4 separate regions of the Homo sapiens genome follow, and regions 2, 3 and 4 are each reported to be linked to region 1. Evidence: microRNA targets listed by miRTarBase, many of them from high-throughput screens and not tested one by one. Region 1 holds a microRNA gene; each other region holds the end of a gene's coding sequence.

The links. The annotated mature microRNA hsa-miR-6857-5p reads UUGGGGAUUGGGUCAGGCCAGU and lies in region 1 at 2,831-2,852, shown strand. An mRNA with a match to its seed (bases 2 to 7 or 8) in the 3' UTR can be bound and repressed. Matches are read on the target gene's strand: a 7mer-m8 pairs with bases 2 to 8, a 7mer-A1 pairs with bases 2 to 7 and ends in A, and an 8mer does both.
Region 2: the mRNA of VAT1 is a reported target of hsa-miR-6857-5p. Seed matches in the 3' UTR shown: 7mer-A1 at 902-908 and 7mer-A1 at 1,046-1,052.
Region 3: the mRNA of GTPBP4 is a reported target of hsa-miR-6857-5p. Seed matches in the 3' UTR shown: 7mer-A1 at 3,545-3,551 and 7mer-A1 at 4,094-4,100.
Region 4: the mRNA of PNPLA7 is a reported target of hsa-miR-6857-5p. Seed matches in the 3' UTR shown: 7mer-A1 at 834-840.

The regions. Positions count from the first base shown.
Region 1 is chrX:53,403,621-53,408,590 of GRCh38, reverse strand. MIR6857 (microRNA 6857) reads left to right here and starts at 2,826; the gene lies at 2,826-2,918. SMC1A (structural maintenance of chromosomes 1A) reads left to right here. Exons shown (of 25, transcript NM_006306.4): 10 at 2,635-2,820; 11 at 2,919-3,098; 12 at 3,200-3,346; 13 at 3,442-3,579; 14 at 4,698-4,814; 15 at 4,919-4,970.
Region 2 is chr17:43,010,878-43,016,585 of GRCh38, reverse strand. VAT1 (vesicle amine transport 1) reads left to right here. Exons shown (of 6, transcript NM_006373.4): 5 at 38-279; 6 at 442-1,979. The coding sequence ends at 525. IFI35 (interferon induced protein 35) reads right to left here. Exons shown (of 7, transcript NM_001330230.2): 2 at 4,309-4,407; 3 at 3,392-3,539; 4 at 3,213-3,319; 5 at 2,924-3,110; 6 at 2,704-2,810; 7 at 2,130-2,478. The coding sequence ends at 2,287. Among named protein-coding and RNA genes, the nearest start is that of IFI35, 6.9 kb to the right of the region's middle.
Region 3 is chr10:1,015,673-1,021,668 of GRCh38, forward strand. It overlaps GTPBP4 (GTP binding protein 4), which reads left to right. Exons shown (of 17, transcript NM_012341.3): 16 at 81-224; 17 at 1,403-4,260. The coding sequence ends at 1,555. IDI2 (isopentenyl-diphosphate delta isomerase 2) reads right to left here. Exons shown (of 5, transcript NM_033261.3): 4 at 5,095-5,225; 5 at 3,238-4,162. The coding sequence ends at 3,845. Among named protein-coding and RNA genes, the nearest start is that of IDI2-AS1, 4.0 kb to the right of the region's middle.
Region 4 is chr9:137,455,836-137,461,180 of GRCh38, reverse strand. PNPLA7 (patatin like domain 7, lysophospholipase) reads left to right here. Exons shown (of 35, transcript NM_001098537.3): 34 at 444-547; 35 at 705-1,229. The coding sequence ends at 788. NSMF (NMDA receptor synaptonuclear signaling and neuronal migration factor) reads left to right here and starts at 1,847. Exons shown (of 16, transcript NM_001130969.3): 1 at 1,847-2,149; 2 at 2,632-2,693; 3 at 3,280-3,774; 4 at 4,695-4,770. The coding sequence starts at 2,079. RefSeq lists enhancers at 1-142, 2,966-3,663 and silencers at 1,617-1,966, 2,057-2,326.

The DNA.
Region 1 (4,970 bases):
CAGATCTCTTGATCTTTTGGCCTCTTTCACCAAATCCTGAGTTCCCAGGTTCCCTGAATATTATCCCATACCTGGGTTCAACTTAGTTTGGTTCCACTAATATTTCCCTATCACTTCTCTAGACACTGCTGGGGAGATAAGTATGGTTAGAGTCAGTCCCTGCCCCCTTAATCTGATAGTTCTTAGGGAACCAGGCTTGGTTTTGGAGGCTGCAGGAAGGGAACTGGTAGAAGAGATTGATTGATTGATTGATTGATTTTGAGATGGAGTCTCGCTCTGTCGCCCAGGCTGGAGTGCAGTGGCACAACCTCGGCTCACTGCAATCTCTGCCTCCTAGGCTCAAGTGATTCTCCTGCCTCAGCCTCCCAAGTAGCTGAGATTACAGGTGCTCGCCGCCATGCCCAACTAATTTTTTTGTATTTTTAGTAGAGACGGGGTTTCACCATGTTGGCCAGGCTGGTTTTAAACTCCTGACCTCAAGTGATCTGCCCGCCTCGGCCTCCCAAAGTGGTAGGGTTACAGGCGTGAGTCACCACGCCCAGCCAGATTTATTTTGCTAAGTGCTTGTGAGAATTTGAAATAATATATATAAGATACTTGGCATAGTGCCTGGGTGGTGGTGGTCTGTAAAATGGTAGATGTGAGGTTTAGAAAGATGATTCTGGATTCAGACACGACTGCCTGAAGTCATTGCTTGGGAACCAGAATAGGCTTTTCCTTGATAGCATGGGGGCTGTGTTCTTCTGTGAGATAGGAAAAAACCAAAGTGTTTTTTCTACTCTCACAACCAGCACAACACTTCACTTCTGACACCAGAAGTGTGGGGGTTTTTCCTCACACACCAAGCAATTCTCCAGCAGACACCAGCTGGGTGACCTATAATTCACTTCAGCTCTGACACTATTTATCTGGAGATAGCATCAGATCCTGTGGGTTAGGGGCTCAGTCCAAGACTTCAGGTGCCAATTGCAAGTCTCAGGTTGTGACTTGTGGTTCTGACTGACCTGCTATAAATTACAGTTCCCGAGAATCCCTCCCTGGGTTCGATTAATTTACTAGTGCAGCTCACAGAACTCAGGAAAATGTTTTACTTATGTTTACCCATTTATTATGAAGGATATTACAAAGGATACAGAGAACAGCCAGATGGATGCATAAGGCAAGGTATGGGAGAAGAGATGTGAAGCTTCCATGCCCAATCTGGGCAAGCCACCCTCCAGGTACCCCCACACAGGGGCTTCATTATGTAGTCATGATTGATCAGATCATCAGCCATCGGTGATCAGTTCAACCTTCAGCCCCTCTCCCCTCCTGAAGGTTGTAGGGGTGGAGCTAAGAGTCCCAAATCTAATCCTGCCTTGGTCTTTCTGGTAACCAGCCCCTATCCAGAAGCTATCTATGGGCCTCCAGCCATAATCATCTCATTAACATACAAAAGACACTGCTCATTCCTGAGATTCTAAGGGTTTTAGGAGTTGTGTGTCAGGAACTCACGGGTAGAAGACTAAATATATATTTCATAAAACCACAGTCCACTTTGATCTTCAAACACAGATCCCTTACATCAGAACAATCATGTAATAAATAGAAAGATGCTGGGAGCGGTAGCTCACGCCTGTAATCCTCGCACTTTGGGAGGCCGAGGCGGGCAGATCATCGGAGGTCAGGGGTTTGAGATCAGCCTGGCCAACATGGTGAAACCCCGTCTCTACTAAAAATACAAAAATTAGCCGGGCATGGTGGCGGGCACCTGTAATCCCAGCTACTCGGGAGGCTAAGGCAGGAGAATCACTTGAACCTGGGAGGTGGAGGTTGCAGTGAGCCAAGATTGCGCCACTGCACTTCAGCGTGGGCAACAGAGTGAGACTCCGTCTCCAAAAAAGAGTAGAAAGATACTGGCACATTACTAGAATCCCACTGAGTCATTAATTAATAATTAGTCTAGTCCATGATCATGTCATGTAAAAATGTCTCCTAGGGTGAGGCCATTCAGGTTTGCAGGCTTCTATTCAATCTTGTTAGGTTCCAAAACCAGGAGTGTTCTCGGCAAACATAGCTTCATACTTTCAGGCATCTGGGATAATTGTGCTAAGAGACAATATCATCTCTTGCTCTGAACCTCTTTTGAGGTGTTAATGTAATACTGAGTTTCCCTCATTACATAACTCATTTATTCATTTCTTTACCTCCCTTCTCTTACCCAAACTTTTCCACCTTTCAAAGGGACGTTAGGATTGGCCACTGTGCTGATCTGGAGTGCACACAGCAAGCTAGTCTGCAATTGCCTCCTCCTCAGTCCATACAGTCTCATTCAGATAGGGTAGGGTTGCATGGGTACAGAACTAGTGGGCTGTCTTTTTTGTTTGTTTTGAGACAGGGTCTCATTATGTTGCCCAGGCTGGTCTTGAACTCCTGGGCTTAAGCTGTCCTCCCATTGCAACCTCCCAAGTAGCTAGGATTACAAACACACACTACCATGCTTGGTATTGGGTTATCTTAACCACTAGGCAATACAGTTGCATTCACTTCCTGATATAGATTCTAGTCTGTCCCCCTTTCCATACTGGGAATTAGGATTCCTGAGCCAGCTTCCAAAAGCTTCATACTTCAGTTTTCCCTTCCTACTTTACTCAGTACGGCCGCCTCATTGACCTATGCCAGCCCACACAAAAGAAGTATCAGATTGCTGTAACCAAGGTTTTGGGCAAGAACATGGATGCCATTATTGTGGACTCGGAGAAGACAGGCCGGGACTGTATTCAGTATATCAAGGAGCAGCGTGGGGAGCCTGAGACCTTCTTGCCTCTTGACTACCTGGAGGTGAGGCTTGTTGGGGATTGGGTCAGGCCAGTGTTCAAGGGCCCCTCCTCTAGTACTCCCTGTTTGTGTTCTGCCACTGACTGAGCTTCTCCCCACAGGTGAAGCCTACAGATGAGAAACTCCGGGAGCTGAAGGGGGCCAAGCTAGTGATTGATGTGATTCGCTATGAGCCACCTCATATCAAAAAGGCCCTGCAGTATGCTTGTGGCAATGCCCTTGTCTGTGACAACGTGGAAGATGCCCGCCGCATTGCCTTTGGAGGCCACCAGCGCCACAAGGTGTGGATTCCCTTGCCCAGGCTGGAGCTGGACAGGCTCAGTACTGGAGATTCATTTGTTCAGCTTCTCCCCCTCTTCTCTCTTCCCCCTGCTGTGTGTAGACAGTGGCACTGGATGGAACCCTATTCCAGAAGTCAGGAGTGATCTCTGGTGGGGCCAGTGACCTGAAGGCCAAGGCACGGCGCTGGGATGAGAAAGCAGTAGACAAGTTGAAAGAGAAGAAGGAGCGCTTGACAGAGGAGCTGAAAGTAAGCCACAGGCAGTGCTGTTTTTAGCAGTGGGAGTCCTAAGCCTAGGTCAGCCACCACCTTACCACCTAGCCCTTCTTTCTTGTTCCCTTCAGGAGCAGATGAAGGCAAAACGGAAAGAGGCAGAGCTGCGTCAGGTGCAGTCTCAGGCCCATGGACTGCAGATGCGGCTCAAGTACTCCCAGAGTGACCTAGAACAGACCAAGACACGACATCTAGCCCTGAATCTGCAGGTGGGGCCTGGCCTTCAGCCCTGTTCTCCAAAGGCCATCCACACATTCCTGGCCTAGGTTTCTCTGGGGGTGGGGAACTTGTTTCACTTCCCCGTCTCCTCCCAGCCTGCCGCAGGGAGTCAGGTATAGCATAGAGTCAGACAGCCAGGGGTTCAGAGCTTGGCTCTGCCTTGAGTTTGACATTAGGCAAGTATTTTCACCTTTCAGTGTCAACCTTCACATCTTTATCTGTGAAATGCGAGTTAAGATGATACCTACTCGGCCGGGCACGGTGGATCACCTGTGGATCACCTGAGGTCAGGAGTTGGAGACCAGCCTGGCCAAACCTGTCTCTACTACAAATACAAAAAATTAGCTGGGCGTGGTGGCAGGCGCCTGTAATCCCAGCTACTTGGGAGGCTGAGGCAGGAGAATTGCTTGAACCCGGGAGGTGGAGGTTGCAGTGAGCCGAGATCATGCCATTGTACTCCAGCCTGGGTGACAGAGCGAGACTCTGTCTCAAAATAAATAAATGATACCTACTTTATAGGGTCATTATTGAATGAGTTAACATGTAAAGTGCTTAAGACTACCATGTGTTCAGTTTATGTTATGTGCTATTGTTAGCATAATTTATTCATTCAACAAATTTGAATTTTTGAAAGTGAGCTATGGGCATTTCAGTCCCTGCTTGTGGTAGTGGGCGGGGCGGGGGGGGACTGTTCTAGGTATATTAATGTGTTTTGTTTTTTTTACTGACTACTTCCCCAGACCGCCCTAGAGGTTTTATATGTAGTGTGTGTATTTATATATCTTTTTCTAAACTCAAAAAATCTAAACTGAATTCTGAAACAACTCTGCCCCCAGGGGTTGTAGATCAAAGACTGGGACCTATACCTAATGATGTTTACTGTGTCCCCAGCCCTGTGGATTGAAGCTGGCTGAACTGGATGCCAGGGAAGAAGCCATGTGATGGCTTCAGTGCAACATCATGGAGGCTTGACTAGGGCAGTAGTGCTAAGCCAGGTTCTCTCAGTTGTGGAGAGCTAGCCCTTCCTGACTGTGGGGCCAATGCAGTCAAGGTAGCTTTTTCTCCAAGGAGCCTGGTCTGCTTTGTCCTCTCAACCCATTGCCTGTAGGAAAAATCCAAGCTGGAGAGTGAGCTAGCCAACTTTGGGCCTCGCATTAATGATATCAAGAGGATCATTCAGAGCCGAGAGAGGGAAATGAAAGACTTGAAGGAGAAGATGAACCAGGTTGGTAGGGTGTGGGCCATGCCAGCGTGTGTGTCAGGGCAGGACTGGGACTGGAAGCAGGACAGACTAAAAGGGCCGATGCCCTCCCTGGCTTCTCTTCTCAGGTAGAGGATGAGGTGTTTGAAGAGTTTTGTCGGGAGATTGGTGTGCGCAACA
Region 2 (5,708 bases), not on the chromosome of region 1:
TGGGGGGGTTCACAGGCTATGTCACCTTGTCCTTCAGGAATGGCCAACCTGCTGACGGGCCCCAAACGGAACCTGATGGCCCTGGCCCGGACATGGTGGAATCAGTTCAGCGTGACAGCTCTGCAGCTGCTGCAGGCCAACCGGGCTGTGTGTGGCTTCCACCTGGGCTACCTGGATGGTGAGGTGGAGCTGGTCAGTGGTGTGGTGGCCCGCCTCCTGGCTCTGTACAACCAGGGCCACATCAAGCCCCACATTGACTCAGTCTGGCCCTTCGAGAAGGTGAATGTGAGGACTTTGCAGGGAGGGCTTGGGTAGGACTCATGAAGGCTGGGGTCCCAAGGGGCAGATTCCTGGGGAAGAGGAGGGCTGCCTGCATCACACTGGCTCTTGTTGGATGAGGGTTGGATAGCACTGGGAGCCGCATCTTTCCTTCCTCCCCAGGTGGCTGATGCCATGAAACAGATGCAGGAGAAGAAGAATGTGGGCAAGGTCCTCCTGGTTCCAGGGCCAGAGAAGGAGAACTAGGGCAAGTGGCTGTGAGACCCTAGAGACCAGCGAAGGGAGAAGTTGGGAAGCTACGTTCTGTTGGCCACCAGACTTGCATTTCAGCCTCTGTCATAATGCTCTGCCCTCCCTCCCCCGAAGGTCTCTGTGGTGATGACCGCTCTCCCCTGCCCCTCCCCGCTTCCTGACCTCTGAAGAGGTTGGGAAGTGACCATTTGGATGTCTGGGCCCTGCCAAGGCGACAGGGAGGGTCAGAGGGAGGCCGGCTGCTTCCTGCCCCCACCCTTTCCCCGGGCCTGCTGTGCTGCTTTTGTGCCAAGGTTAGCCAGTCCCCCCTGTTGTGTTCCATGTGCTTTCACCTCTGCCTCATCTTTCCTCCCGTCCCTGCCCCGCCACCTCCCCAAAGAATTGAAACGTCAGCTCAGGATATGGGGCCAATCTCTGTGAGTCCAGCATGTACCTGTCTCTCCCTAGTGTCCCTTCAGCCTGGGCTGACCAGTGCCCGCCTCTGGGCTTGACCAGTTCCCAATCTCGTCCTCTGTCCCCAACTTCTTAAGCACAATTGGGCTTCTTCCATCTCCAGGTTTTCTGCCATTCTTAACCAAGGCTGCCTCTTCCAACAGGGCGGGAATCAGACCTACTCCCCTAGGTCACAACTCTGGGAAGGATACAGAGCCCCCACCCTTCACTGAGTTCTCTGGATTTGTTCTCAGTGCCTTAGCAACGAAAACCTGTGCTTGTGTGTGTGTGGCGGCGGGGAGGGAGGATCCTGTTTCCCACCTCCTTCTCCTCCCCTGTACTCCCCAGTGCCTTCCTTGTTCTGGTGGAGCTGGGGTTTCTCTCCTCCCCAGTCCCACAACACTGCCAAAAATCTGTGTATGTGCCATTGGGTGGGGCAGCCCCAAGCCTCCTGGGGAGGCAGGGCAAAAACAGGTGCCCTCATCGTGGTCTGTGCCATGTCCCGTCTCTATGGTGGTTGAGGAGAAAGGCGGGGAAGCTTCCTCAGCCTTGCAGATATGTGTGGCATTTACTAGCCAGAGCTCTGAAAGGCAGTGCTGTCTGTTTCTTGTACTGGGACCAAAGTAAAAATCCAAGCACATTCCCCTTGCAGTTAGGGGAGGCCCTACTGCCTTCTCAAAGCAGAGAGGCAGCTTATCAAACTCAGCCCAAAACTCTGTTTACATGGGTGGGGAGATGGAGCAGGGAAGTACAGAGTGGGATGGTCAGGACCTGGGCCATTGCAACCAAAATGGGGACTTCCTGGGTAGGGAGGTCACTCCCTCTACTCACTGAGCTAGGATTAGGGAGGGTTATTGCCCCAACCATTGCAATGGGAGGTGGAGGGACAGGCTCAGCCTCCTCATTGTCTAAATGAGGCCTAAATGTGTGAAGTGCGATTTCTGCTTTTGTGTACCCCACCACCCCATTACCACAGCTGCCTTTGTGTGTTTGTGTCAATAAAAAGCCAAACCCTGGGTCCTGCTTGTTGCCTCTGAGAGTGGAGGGAAGGTGAGCTCCTGGAAGGCTAGTGCTGCCAGCAGAAGATCTGGGCTGCTTCCTGCCCCCTGCCTCTTTCCATGCCCAAATCACGTTTCCTTTCATGAGTGAAATGAGGAAGAACATCATGGCATGCAGGCTCTTTTTACTGTTCTGGGCAGTGTTTTGCAATGTGTGACCCCTCCGCACTGTTGGTGAACATACAGACCTCCTATATGGGCACCCAAGCCCAGGCCAGTGTGAGAACCTTGGCGGGGGGGTGGGGAGGATGAGAAGGGGAGGCCCCTAGCCTGACTCAGAGGTGAAGACTGCTAGGCCCTGCTGTCCTTGGGGTACGACTGTCAGGGCCTCTACCTCCCCGCCCCCGCGGGTGGGCTTCTGGAAGTGGATCTCCAGGACGTCATGCAGCTCCGGGCCATCCAAGATATCAGGAATGTTGAGCACCAGTACCGAGCGGGGAACTGGCTGCGACCTGATCTGGAAAAGGAGCCAGGAGATGGCAAAGGCTCATGGGAGAAGGGCTGGGGGCTGGGGGTAGGGCAGGCAGTGCCCCATGGGGGTATGAGGTCGGGAGGCCTGGAGAGGCTGATGGTGGGTAGGTAGGTCAGTGGGGTTTGGGGCCTCTGATCCTTCATTGGGCAAGTTCCTGGCAGGCAGACAGGTTACCCAGCCCAGCCCCTGTTCTTCACCCCTCCTGCTTACCTCAGCCTTCTGGATCTCCCCGTTCACATACGGAGAGACTCTCAGAGGGACTTGCTGCCCACCCAGTGGCACTGTGAACTGGCCGATTTGGCACAGACGCTGAGCCACTGTGGGGAGCAAGGAGGGGTGGGCCTTTAGCATCAAGCCCTCTCCTCTCCCTGCACCGTAATCTTGCACACCCTATACCCTCTCCCCTGCAGGAGGCCTGCATAGCCCTCACCTCCATCCCTAGCAAACCCCAGCATGACACTCCCTGGCAGTAGCTCCCGAACGTCCACATCGCCACCTCCGTTCCTAGTCTTGCCAAAGAAGATCTCTAGCTTGTCCAGCAGCTCCTCCTCACTCAGCCTGAGGCTGGCAGGAAATCCAGTGACCAACACCCTCCGGCCACTCAACTGGCTGGACATCTAGGGGGAGACAGCAAGGGGTGGTCCCAGACACAGCTCCACTTCCCCATGCCCAGGTGCATGGCATGCTTTGCATGCCCCAGGATTCTGTCATACCATCACCTGGATGGTGGTGACCATGGGCAGCTCCAAGGGCTGGACCTGCACCCGCAGCCGGCACTCCTCCATGTTGATCGTGTGCTCCTTTTGTTGCAGCACCTGCTCAGCCACTGGGTGGTGGGAAACAGGGTCAGTACTGGGAACCCTCCCCACCTCCCTCCTGAGGCTCCCCATGAGCTTACCTTTGGGGTCATCAAAGGTGATCAGAGCAGAGCCCGCAAGCAGAGGGCAGTGGATCCGCAAATTGGAAACTAAAGACTTAGGCACTTCCGGGTCCTGCTGGGTGTGTCCTCGGAATACCAGGGGGATCTTGGGCACTGAAAATGGGACCTGGAAGTAGGGGAGGGGAGTAGGAGTGTTCCTCACTCCCACCTAGGAGGAAGGCATCTCCGATTCCATTCCATTGATGCTGAGTGCCGGAGATAAATACATTTACTGAAAGAAAAGCTGGATAAATGAGTGGATGAATGCAGGTCTGGTCCATACAGGGCAATTTACATACAACATCTTAATTTGTCCTGGGAGGTGGGTAGCTCTACTTTACAGATGTTCAAGTAACATAATGGAGGTCACACAGCAAGGAAGTAGCAGAGCCAGGAATAAAACCGAGAACTCCCCAGCTCTTTTTTGTGTTTCTTTGTTTTAAAGGGAGTCTTGCTCTGTCACCCAGCTGGAGTGTAGTGGCATGATCTTGGCTCACTGCAACCTCCACTTCCCAGGTTCAAGCAATTCGGACTCAGCCTCCCAAGTAGCTGGGATTACAGGCATGTGCCACCAAACCCAGCTAATTTTTGTATTTTTAGTAGAGACGGGGTTTCACCCTGTTGGCCAGGCTGGTCTCAAACTGACCTCAGGTGATCCACCAGCCTCGGCCTCCCAAAGTGCTGGGATTACAGGCGTGAGCCACTGCGCCCGGCCTAATTTTTGTATTTTTAGTAGAGATGGGATTTCACTGTGTTGGCCAGGCTGGTCTCAAACTCCTGACCTGAGGTGATCAGGCCCCCTTGGCCTACCAAAGTGCTGGGTTTACAGGTGTGAGCCACCGCACCCGGCCTCGCCAGCTCGTTTTTACCAAACAACACCAGATCTCCCACCTTACCTTGTCTTTGGGGGAGTCCCCGAGCTCCTTTCTCAGCTGCTGCAGGTCCCACAGCCTCATCTTGAGTCTGGCCTGCTCCTCCTGAAGGGCGTGGAGGGCCTGTTGGGGCAGAAGGAAACAACAAGACTTCTACCCGCCCTTCCAGAGAATCAACAAGCCCAGGGGAAGTGGGGCCTATTCTGGACGCTCCAAAAGCAGAGTTGATGCTAAGCTCAAGAACAACCCAACCCCTTTGTGCTGCCCTGGGCTGGTCTTGGCCCCCTCCACCCAGGGCTTGGCTGGCCTCATCTCAGCTGCTCTTGAAAGGGCAGGAGCCTTTGCAGCGTCCATGACTTGTTCGTGACCACAGATCTAGAGTTCAACAAACACTGATTAAGCTCCTGCTAGAAAGTGCTCGGCACTGACACAGGCAGTGGAAGATAAGGGTACGACCCTCAGGCCTGCCAAACAGTGCTCAAGAGTACATGATCACATGACTGACTGTGAAGGGCAGCCGGAATTTGGAAGAGGGACAATCCCAAAGGGGTTAACCCAATTAGGGACACCTCCAAGAGGAGGGGAGACTAGTTGCAAAATGTCATACAGTCATATTCTTAACTAACGTTTACTAAGTACTTACTATATGCCAGGCACTGTGCTAAGCCCGTCTGATGAATTATTTCATTCAATTCTTAGAACAACAGGGTATCTAAGATAGATATCCTGTGATCCTTATTTTATTGATTTATTTTTTTAATTTTTATTTATTTATTTATTTTTGAGACAGAGTCTTGCTCTGTCTCCCAGGCTGGGGTGCAGTGGCGCGATCTTGGCTCACTGCAGCCTCCACCTCCCAGGATCAAGTAATTCTCCTGCCTCAGCCTCCCAAGTAGCTGGGATTACAGGCACCCACCACCACACCTGGCTCATTTTTGTATTTTTAGTAGAAACAGGTTTTCACCATGTTGGCCAGGTTGGTCTCAAACTCCTGACCTCAGATGATCTGCCCGCCTCGGCCTCCTAAAGTGCTAGGATTACAGGTGTAAGCCACAATGCCTGGCCAATCCTTATTTTATAGATGAGGAAATTAAAGCTCAGAGAGGTTAAATGACTTGCCCAAAGTCATTTGGCCCTAGGCTGTCTGACTCCAGAGCCCACCCACTAACCTGTGCTTTACAGTGAAGAAATGAAGCCCAGAGTGGGGAGGTAGTTTACCCATCAATTCTAGCTTGTCCCTGGACTGTCACACTTTCCACTGTACACCAAGTAACCTTTTAGGCTGGGTGTGATCTGGAATGGGTCCAGAGAGAGAACTGACATCACAGGCAGGGAAGTGACACCAGGGATACCAATAAATGCACCTTTGTTTGTGGAATAGAGCAGAGTTCACCCTGTGGTTAGGAATCCTGATAAAGAAGTTC
Region 3 (5,996 bases), not on the chromosome of region 1:
GGGGTCCTGAGCGCTGAGCACTGAGCCTGGGAGTGGACCTGGGGTCCTGAGCGCTGAGCATTGCTTCCCCTGCTTTGCAGGCCCATTACGCAGTCCAGGCAAGAAGATCCCGGAGCATCACTAGGAAAAGAAAGCGGGAAGACTCTGCTCCCCCGTCCTCTGTGGCCCGGAGTGGGAGTTGCTCTCGAACTCCACGTGACGTTTCTGGTCTTAGGGATGTCAAGGTCAGTCTCTGTGTTGTGTAATGTAATAAAATGACAGTCTCTGTTGTTTATTGCACAGGGTTCAGGGCAAACACCAGCAGTTGCCATTTGCAGGAACTATGGCAGGGGTTGTGTGTACTGCATGCCCTCGTTTTGTGGCATCCTTTAGAGGAGAGCACGGGTCAGGGTGCAGGTGGATGCCCCTGACAGCTGCCCTGGATGGACCCCTCCTTGGCACTTTGCTTTTGCGGAGGGTGGCCAGAGCATGGTCTGACAGCACTAGCAGTCTGGGCTTAGACCCTGCTGTCTGAAGAGGGCCAGGAAGTGGCCACAGCTGAGCACCAGGAGGCCTCAAGTCCAGCAAGCCCCCCATGGGAGGAACAGCAGAGGGAACTCCTGGGTTGATTGGCGGGTGATCCTGCTCATCCTTAGGTTGCAGGATTGTTCCCCCCAGGTGGAGAGCTTGAGTCACATTTAGTTTATTTGTAGCGTCTTTTGGCAAAGACACTTAAGATGGACACAGTCTGTCTTGCTGAAACGTCCTTTTATTAAACACAACAACTTTTAGTTTCAGCGTTGTGGTAATGGAGATGCAGGAGAGTCTGTGTATAAACTGCAGTCTCCTTCATGGAAGCCTGAGCTTCACTCCTCTGTGCCATTGCCATCTTGAAACCTGGCTGTTAATATTGGCATTGCCACTTGTCAGTCAGACCTGAGGAAAACAGGTTCATGGGCCTGAGTCCTTAGCTTGTGTAAGAGGGAGTTAAAACAGATGTGTGCTAACCTTCTAGGTCTAAAGTGTATCTAGTCCTGGGTATAAAGCTTGTCCTGGGTATGATTTTCATCCAGTCTTTATACAAAAATACTCATTGAGTTCCTGCAGATAACTGTGCTGGGCTTAAGAGAAAAGAGATGTAACAGGGATAACTGTGCTGGGCTTAAGAGAAAAGAGATGTAACAGGGGTAACTGTGCTGGGCTTAAGAGAAAAGAGATGTAACAGGGGTAACTGTGCTGGGCTTAAGAGAAAAGAGATGTAACAGGGATAACTGTGCTGGGCTTAAGAGAAAAGAGATGTAACAGGGTCTCTTCGCTGAGCAGACCTGAGCCATTAAACAGATTGTTACCCAGTAGTTGAAATTCAGAATGGAAAATTGGTTTTAAGTAATGAACATACTTTATTTTTTTCTCCTCCTTTTAGATGGTGAAGAAAGCCAAGACTATGATGAAGAATGCTCAGAAGAAGATGAATCGGTTGGGGAAGAAAGGGGAGGCGGATAGACACGTGTTTGATATGAAGCCCAAGCACTTGCTGTCTGGGAAGAGGAAAGCTGGTAAAAAGGACAGGAGATAGTATCCGTTTGGTTGGCGTGGCTTCGCTAGAGTGTTGCTGTTTATTTCCTGGTTTGGCACAGTATGGTTTCATGAAATTGGAGCTCTGTATAAACTGAAAAAGACAAAATAAGTAAAGCACTTGTTGCTTTGCTGAAAACTATGGTTAACCCTATATAGGTGTGGGAAATTTTTGTCACTGCATAATATTACAAATATTTTGAGTAGACAGTGTTTCCACATTTAATGGAGTATCAGTTGCTTCAGATTTTCAGAACTGGGAAGATTTACTGGTTTAACTAGGTTGTTTTTGATGGAGAAAAACCTTATTTTCTTTTGTAAGAGCTGGGAGCAAACACGTTTATGAGTGTGTCGGAATCCCGTGCTTAAAATACGCTCTTAAATTATTTTCTAGTCTTATTTTACAATGTCTCATTGTAGTCTGTCTTCAACTATTTTATCCAAAATAAACCTCCAGAAGAAAGTAGTTTTCATTTACTTAGCTCATGTTTTGGTTTAGTTATAGTCGCTATGGATTTGGCCAAATAAAAAGGCAAACAACATGACATTTCTATTTTGTTTTAAAGCAAAAATACTTTTGGGGGAGTAAAATGTTGCTGGAGGCATTAGGCAATTAAATATGGGCATTCTCCTATTTCTGTGGCCCGTCCCTGAAGTTACATGTTCAGTAAAACACAAAAACACCGCCAATGCCACCTCAAAAGCACCTGCTGGGGAGCGTTGGGGTGAAGAGCTGTGGGGTCGGAGGGACCTGCCCAGGGGTCCGTGTGCTCCTGGAGCTCCAAAGACACACAGGGGTCCAAGAGCCACCACGGATAAGTTATCAAGTCACACAATCAACATTATAGCTGAGGAAAGGACTTTAGTTAATCACACTTCTGGATTACATGTGGCAATTTTAAAAATTTACCAGGGCTGGGCTGGGCGCAGGGGCTCAAGCCTGTAGTTCCAGCACTTTGGGAGGCCGAGGTGGGCAGATCAGGAGGTCAGGAGTTCGAGACCAGCCTGGCCAACATGGTGAAACCCCATCTCTACTAAAAATACAAAAATTAGCCATGCGTGGTGGTGGGCATCTGTAATCCTAGCTGCTCGGGAGGCTAAGGCAGGAGAATTGCTTGAGCCCAGAGGCGGAGGTTGCAGTGAGCCGAGATCGTGCCACTGCACTCCAGCCTGGGTGACAGAGAGAGACTCCGTGTGAAAAAAAAAAAAAAAATACCAGGTCTGGTTTTTGAAATTCTTTCTCCGTATTAAACACCAAAACTTAACATATAGTTTACTTTGTGTTAAACAACAACAGTATGGCCGGGCGCGGCAGCTCATGCCTGTAATCCCAGCACTTTGGGAGGCCGAGGCAGGCGGATCACGAGGTCAGGAGATCGAGACCATCCTGGCTAACACGGTGAAACCCCGTCTCTACTAAAAATACAAAAAATTAGCTGGGTGTGGTGGCGGGCGCCTGTAGTCCCAACTACTTGGGAGGCTGAGGCAGGAGAATGGCTTGAACCCGGGAGGCGGAGCTTGCAGTGAGCCAAGATCGCACCACTGCACTCCAGCCTGGTCGACAGCGAGACTCCATCTCAAAAAAAAAAAAAAAATACCAGGTCTGGTTTTTGAAATTCTTTCTCCGTATTAAACACCAAAACTTAACATATAGTTTACTTTGTGTTAAACAACAACAGTATGTTTTAAAGCAAGTATGTCTTTATTTGTAAGCATATTACTGAAACGATCAAATGAACAGAAGTGGATAAACGTCGAGTCACTTGGCTGAGACCATACGCATCTTCCGTACTGCTTGTATTAGGATGCAAGATTGAATGTGTCTTTTTTTTAAAAATGCAGCCTTGTGTTGCACTCTGAAATAAGTGATTTAAAAAGAAAAACATGATACAGAGATCCCATCCTGACCTTGGAGGCTTGGATAAAGCTGTGGGGAGACAGCCTCATGGTCCAGCCAGGCTAGTCCGCCTGCTTCAGGACTCTCAAGATCTCCCCAAGACTTTCAGGATCAGCTGCTGTTAATCAAACAAGTGCTTATAAAATGGAAATTGGGACAAAGGAAATGTTAAATTTCCTCCCTGCAACCAGGCAGATGAGAAATATGGAAATAAGGAAAAGGGAAAATGAAGATATGACAAAGTTGATGAAAAGGTTGAAATAGTGATTTATACATGATGGGCAATCAAGTGCCCCTTTTGCCCTGTTTTTTGGAGAGGGTGTATCATTGCCTCAATGGTGCGTCTGCCTGCACTGAGGGCATTACACATGGCTGACTCGACCTCCCTGCCTCTCACACTCTGTGTATTTTGTGAAGCTCCACAAACGGGGTCACGTCATCCAGGTGAGGCCACCACCGGTACAGAAACCTCTCGGCAATGGTTCTTAGCCAGGGGGTGACTTTGACTTCACCCCTCGCCTCCCTCTCCAGCAGCTCCCACAGCTCCTCCTGGGACAGGTAGAGGATGCTTTTCGTTTCACTGGGATCCGGGTTCAGAGTGACGTTTTTCCTCACAAGCAGAAGGTAACAAATTTCATGCTCTCCCCAAATTCTGTCTGATTTTGCCTTGTGGTGATAGATTGTCATGAACACAATGTCCTCTGGAGAAATCTATTGACAGAAATTGGTGCAGTGTTAACAACGCTAATGTAAAACACAGAATTTACAGAAAAATAGAGAAAATAAACACATTTGTTTTCCTCAGAAAATGAACACTTTCTTTGGTAATTGATAATTTCCAAAACCTCGATTTTAGCTAAGTAAATTTTTGTGGACTCAAGTCTGAATGATAAACCGGCTTTGGTTTCTTGGTTCCAGTAAACCTGTCTGTCTTCATTTAAAGAACTAACCGTGTCACACACACATCCTCAACAGAAAACCCCGTAGAAACCGGCTAGCGTTGTCAGGAGAACATCCATCCTCTCTTAAACGTGTTCTTGAGTGGATGAAGGTAACACATGCTCACAGGATCCTGGACATTCTTTCTACACTTGAATTTCTTTCTTTTTTTTTTTTTTGAGATGGAGTCTCGCTCTGTCGCCAGGCTGGAGTGCAGTGGCACAATCCCGGCTCACTGCAACCTCTGACTCCCAAGTAGCTGGGATTACAGGCGTGTGCCACTACGCCCAGCTAATTTTTGTACTTTTAATAGAGACGGGGTTTCACCATGTTGGCCAGGATGGTCTTGATTTCTTGACCTTGTGATCCGCCCGCCTCGGCCTCCCAAAGTGATGGGATTACAGGCGTGAGCCACCACGCCCGGCTTGAATTTCCTCTTCGGTGTGTGGTCGACAGATTCCTGCACAGTCTCAACCCTGCCTGGGACACATAGGGACTCACACTGCCCCATCCACAGCTACATTCACAGCCCCATTCACAGCCCCATTCACAGCTCATTCACAGCCCCATCCACAGCCCCATCCTTCATCCTCATGGTGCTTCATGAGGTCAATGGTGTAGATCCAGCCTGGACTTTGTTCACCGTCTGCCCGCTGCCAACCTGGACTCCCGTGGACACAGCTGAGACTGGATGCTGTGTGTACCTGCTCCCCAGGAATTCCCAGCTCTGCTTGCAGACGCCTCTGGGCTGCCCTCCTCACTCCGATGGCATCCTTTTCTTCCAGTTCTGCTGGGTTGTATAATGGGTGGCTACTACAGGAGTCGGTAAAATACCCTGGAAAAAATGCATGTGGGAACATCCCTCTTTATTCCTGAAAAGTGAATATATTAAATACAAATGCAGATGCTTCATGTAAAACCATCATCCGTCATCAGCAGAAGACAGCCTGGCGGGGGGAGTGGGTTTGTCATGGGCTCTCAGAGCAGCACTCGCCTCCAGCCTCCACGGCTGTGGGCTTGGTGAGGGTCTTCCACATGACCACCTGGCGGGGCTGGCCCTGACCGCTCCTGCGGCCCTTCCTGCAGATGTGCACACACATGTCCCGTGGCACTATCCCAGTATGTCTTAGGAGAGGGACTGGTTCCTACTCAGTTTTGTACCCACAGAGGACCTGAGATGCCATGGGGTGGCGGGAGGAGGTGGTGGGGCTGTGGGCTGGGTGGCTGCACCAGCTGGGCTGAGGAAGCTGGGCTGCACTTTGAGGGTGGTGATCAGTGAGCATGGTTTCACAGGAAGACTGCTGGAATACCTTTGACCAAGTTTCCTTACTGAGAGGTTCTACTTAATTTACCCAAGTAACAGCAATAGCGCTATGACGGGAGGTCACACTCTCCTCAGTAAATCTCTGTTCCCTCTCGTTCCTCAGACCCTCAGTGCTTCCTTCGGTCACTCTGCAAGGAGTTTGGCTGAAGTTGAATCCACTCTTGCAAGTACAAGAGCTGGTACTCCCACCTGCCCCTATGTATCCTGGAGGCGGCTAACACATGATAGGAAATCTTAGCTCCAGGGGCTTTATTTGCAAACTGTTGACTATGTACTACAGTT
Region 4 (5,345 bases), not on the chromosome of region 1:
TACCCTCCATGCTCCATCCAGGGCCCTGCGCTTGGGCCTTCAGCCAGTGGCCTCCTCACAGCAGAACTGGACATTCTCCTGGGAGACGTCTTCATGGCTGCCGCAGGCCGAGAGGGCCCTGGGCAAGGCAGCCCCTATCCACAGTTGCCAGGTCTGGGGTGCTGGAGCCCTCAGGGTGCTTGGCTGACAAGGGGAGGAGTGTCTGCCCGCTCCTTGTCCTTGTGGAAGACCCACGAAGTGATGTGCTGGGGCAAAGCTGGAGCCAGACAGAACCAGGGGTGGTGTGCAGGGCTGCCCTGGGACCAGGTGGCTGCGTGTAGGGCCCCGGGCCACCTTGGAGGCGGGGGTGGGCATCTGTGGCCGGTTCTGCCTCTGAGTGTGGCTATGCTGGGTACGGTCCCTTCCTTGGGAGGGGACTGACGCAGCCCTACCCTCGGTGCCAGACGAATCTGACTACCAGACGGAGTACGAGGAGGAGCTGCTGGACGTCCCCAGGGATGCATACGCAGACTTCCAGAGCACCTCAGCCCAGCAGGGCTCAGACTTGGTGAGGAGCTGGGCATGGTCCCACCTGGTGCCCACAGCTGAGCCTTGGTGCCTGGCCCTGTGCCGGCCACTCCCTCCCTGTGGTCCCACCGGGTTACCAGCGCTGCAGAGCCCCTGCCCTGCCTGGTCCTCACCTGGAACATGCGGTCTGCTTGCAGGAGGACGAGTCCTCACTGCGGCATCGACACCCCAGTCTGGCTTTCCCAAAACTGTCTGAGGGCTCCTCTGACCAGGACGGGTAGAGGCCTCTGCTAAAGAGCCCGGATGCAGCGTCTTCCGTGGGACTGTCCCCAAGGCTGAGGCTCCTGCCAAGTCCTAGGGGCCTCTGTACCTGCCCTGCTGGAAGCCCTGACTTCCCCGGGGCCCCAGGCTGTGTTAGGGTTCTCTGGGCCTCTTCTTTGTACCAGCAGCCCTGCATACAGGGCCCTGTGAGCCCCCCTGCAGTCCTGTGAGGCCCCTGAAGCTCTGTGAGGCCCCTGAAGCTCTGTGAACCCCCTGCAGCCCTGTGAGGCCCCCCGAAGCCCTGTGAGGCCCCCCGAAGCCCTGTGAACCACCTGCTGCCCTGTGAGGCCCCCAAAGCCCTGTGAACTGCCTGCTGTCCTGTGAACTGCCTGCTGCCCTGTGAGGTGTGGGAGCCCTGATGCTGCCGTGTGATGTTTCAATAAAGGTGGATCTCACTGTTGGACGTGTCTCCCGGGCCGAGGTCCCTGTGGCAAAGAAACACTACTGGTTCTCCCTGATGCGGGTGGTCCCTGAGGCTGGGCAGTCCCCAGTCCTCCTCAAAGGACCCCACTGCTGGGGCCTGAGAGCCCTAGGGCGGCAAATGCAGGCCAGGCAGGTAGGGCGTCCAGAGTCTGCATAGAGCTGTGGCCCCCCAGGACCAGGACGGGCCCCTCTGTCTCTCTCTGGCCTCGTGCAAACTGGGTGCCCCCTAAACTGGCTTCCCCTTCGGTTTCCAGTTCCCAAACTGCACAGGGAGCCCTTTTGTGTAAGGGGAGGGAGAACCGGCCTCCCTGTGATCCTGCAGGTCTGAGCAGCAGATCGTGAGGGCCGAGGGCCCAGGACTTTGCGACCAGGGGGCCGCTGGCCTCAGTTTCCCCGCTCTGGAGGCCTGGACGAGAGGGCGCGGAGCCAGGCCGCCCGGCCCCGCCCCCAACTCAACCCGGGCCCGGACGTCACGGTGGGCGGGGCCACATGTCCTCTCCGAGCTCTCCGGGGCCCTGACGTCACGGTAGGTGGGGCCGACCGCCCCTCTGGGCCCGCCCGGGCCCTGACGTCACGATGGGCGGGGCCGGCCCTCGGTTCGGGCAGCGCTCTCCCGGGAGCGGCGGCACGCGCGGAGCGCCGGGTGCGGCCATGCGGGGACCGGGCCCGACCCCGAGCCCGACCCCGAGCCCAAGCCCGAGCCGGAGCCCGAGCGAGACCCCGAGCCCGAGCCCGAGCGCGACCCCCGGTGCGGCGCGGCTACCCCGGCGGAGGCGGCGGGCGCGGGGCGCGCTCTGAGGCCCGGGGGATGCGCCGCCGCCTCGACCATGGGCGCCGCCGCCTCCAGGAGGAGGGCGCTGAGGAGCGAGGCCATGTCCTCGGTGGCGGCCAAAGTGCGGTGAGTGCGGCGGGGCCGCCTTCCCGCACCCCGCCCTGGACCTCCGACCCCGCCCGAGTCCGCCCCTGCCCCGCGGTGCTCCCCGGGCTCCCGGGCCCCGGCCTCTGCCACTGAGGCGCCCTCCCCGCGCCCCGCGCCTCCCTCTTCCTGGTCCCCTGCCCTGCTCTTCCCTCCCCTCCCCTCGCGAGCGCGTGGTGGGCGAGCGCACCCCCCAGGTCGGGAGTGGCCTCGGTTCCCCCGGGGAACAGCAGCCGACCGGCCTCGCGACCCCTCTCCACGGTCCGACGGGCAGGGGCCGGGCCTGCAGGCCTGGCCAGGGCGCACCAGGACCAAGGGTGTGTGGGCTCCCGGAGGGGGACGACCCCGACCCTCCTTCCAGACGCCGAGGGCCTGGCTGGGGACCGGACCCCCGGCTCTTGCGCGGCCCGGTGTTTGGGAGGGTCGTGCCGTGGCCTCTGACCGTGCCCTCTGTCCACCCTCAGAGCAGCCCGAGCGTTTGGAGAGTACCTGTCCCAGAGTCACCCTGAGAACCGCAACGGCGCAGGTAGGGGCACGCGAGGCCGTGCCAGGGCCGCCCAGACCCCCCAGCCCAAGGGATGCTGATCCCTGCCTCCGGGGGTGGAGCGTGAGGGGCATTGGTTGCGCGTGGGCCCGGCGCCCTGCCGGCCTGGCTTCCTTACATCCCCTGCCCTCCCTGCCCGAGCCCCAGGAGCAGTTCCCAGCCGCTCGTCACCATGGCACCCACCCCGCCTGGGCCGTTGGCATGGCAACAGGCCTCCTGGCTCCCCCAGGGCTGGCACCACTGCCTCTGGGGGCCAGCTGGTGGGGGGAGGGGGAAGTTGGCACCAGGCAAACGGTGCGATCGCAGGCTGGGGGATGGCCTGCGTGTTCCTACCCGGCAGGACCGCACACAGGTAGCACAGCGTCACCCAGCCCCCACGCACATGCTAGAGCTTCAGGCCCAGATAGGAGTGAGGGGCTCAGAAACACGCCAGTGACTAGGGTTTGGGCAGCCCTAGTCCCCCACAGAGGCCAGGTGCCCACTGGGTGTTCTCTGCCTTCGGCCTGCTATGAAACCGGCAGCGGGGGGCCCACACGCGGCAGGCAGGCTCACTCAGTGTCTCTCCTAGATCACCTGCTGGCTGATGCCTACTCTGGCCACGACGGGTCCCCCGAGATGCAGCCGGCCCCCCAGAACAAGCGCCGCCTGTCCCTCGTCTCCAACGGCTGCTACGAGGGCAGCCTCTCAGAGGAGCCCAGCATTAGGAAGCCCGCAGGCGAGGGCCCTCAGCCTCGAGTGTACACCATCTCTGGGGAGCCTGCCCTGCTGCCCAGCCCTGAGGCGGAGGCCATTGAGCTGGCGGTGGTGAAGGGGCGGCGGCAGCGGCACCCTCACCATCACAGCCAGCCCCTGCGCGCCAGCCCTGGTGGCAGCCGGGAGGACGTCAGCAGGCCCTGCCAGAGCTGGGCGGGCAGCCGCCAGGGCTCCAAGGAGTGCCCCGGATGTGCCCAGCTGGCTCCTGGCCCCACCCCTCGGGCCTTTGGGCTGGACCAGCCACCTCTGCCTGAGACCTCCGGTCGCCGCAAGAAGCTGGAGAGGATGTACAGCGTTGACCGTGTGTCTGGTGAGGGGTTTGTGTCAGGGCATAGACAGGTTTGGGGGTGCATGCCGCTGCCAGGGTCTGACAGCAGCAGCCACTGTGAGGCTTGGAACAGAGAACAGGTGCTCAGGTCACAGCATGCCAGCGGACTCAAGATTAAAACCGGCAGGCTTCTGCTGCGGCCTCCACACCCTATGAGCTGTGAGCTCCCTCAGCTCCTCAGCAAAATCTGCCAGGCCTCACAGTCCGCTTTCGCCCTGCTAGCACCAGGTCAATCAAGGAGTGCTTCCTGGAGGAGGGGGCCTGGGAGGATCTTAAGGGATATGTAGGGAGGAAGCACCGCTTAATCAGGAGACTGGGCTGCCCTCCGAGAGTCCTGGGGAGCTGTTGGGGCCCAGCCAGGCAGTGGGCATCTTTCCCCAGGGTTGTTGAGTTGTGTGGTAGCTTGTCCACCAGGCAGAAAGTCACTCCACTGTCCCCACACTTGGGCATCAGGGAAAGGCTGTGGGGGCCCTCGGAAGGGGACAGCCCTCAGCAAGGTGGTCTCTAGCCTCGGTGAGGGCCTCCAGCTAGAGCATGGGGGCTGCAGAGAAGGCCTCAGAGCCTCTTCTGCCCAAGGGAAACAGACGCATTGTTTTCCTGGGCCTCCTGGAGACAGACTGTGCTTTCAAAGGAATGTTTCTCAAACTTTGGGTGGCCAAAGGGAAAGTTAAGCCAAAAAAATCAAAGCGTCAAGTTACCAAGAGCGTGGTCTTGGTGAGTGAGCAGCAGACATTCGAGCACTGCCCTCTGTGCCCGTGTGGGGATGCCACCCTCCCCCCACCCGCCCTGGCTGCCAGCTTCTGCTGACCCCTGGACCCAGAAGCATCTGCTTCCCAACAGGGAGGGAGAGGCTTCAGGAACCCCTACTTCACCCAGCCACCGCTCCTTTTTGTCTCTCTTAGACGACATCCCTATTCGTACCTGGTTCCCCAAGGAAAATCTTTTCAGCTTCCAGACAGCAACCACAACTATGCAAGCGTGAGTCTTGTGCCCACGACTTGGGGTCAGGGTTGGGTGGTCTCTTTCTGCTGCTCAGGAAACAGCACTTTTTCCCAGTCTCTGGGCCTACCAGGGGGGCTGCTTCTGAACAGACCCACGTGCCTATGCTGTGCCAGGCCTGCCAGGGAGGCCAGGGCTGACTGCTCTTCCCCTCCCATGGCTGGTGCCCAGCCCCCCCCCCCACACACACACAGTCAGGGGACCTGGCCCAGGGCTGCAGCTGATGAGCTCTCAGTGGGGTGTGGGGTGTGGCAGGTTCTCCTGCTCCTATCCACTCTCCTCAGCCTGTGTCTGCCCTCCCTCAAACCCCAAATAGAAGCCTACTTCTGTTTCATACGTGCCATAGGTCATCACAGTTTCAGGGTCCCCGCAGGGACCTGCTCCTCTCTGTCTTGACATACATTTGGCTTTTCTGTTCTGGGATTCCTTCCAGGGAAGTTCCCTTTGCTGCATTGGTCCCCACACCAAAGAAGTGTCCTGCCCGGGGGAGTCCACCCCACACCCAGCCTCAGGCTGCCTGGTCTCAGCAACCAGTCCTTGTGGCATGGGCTGCA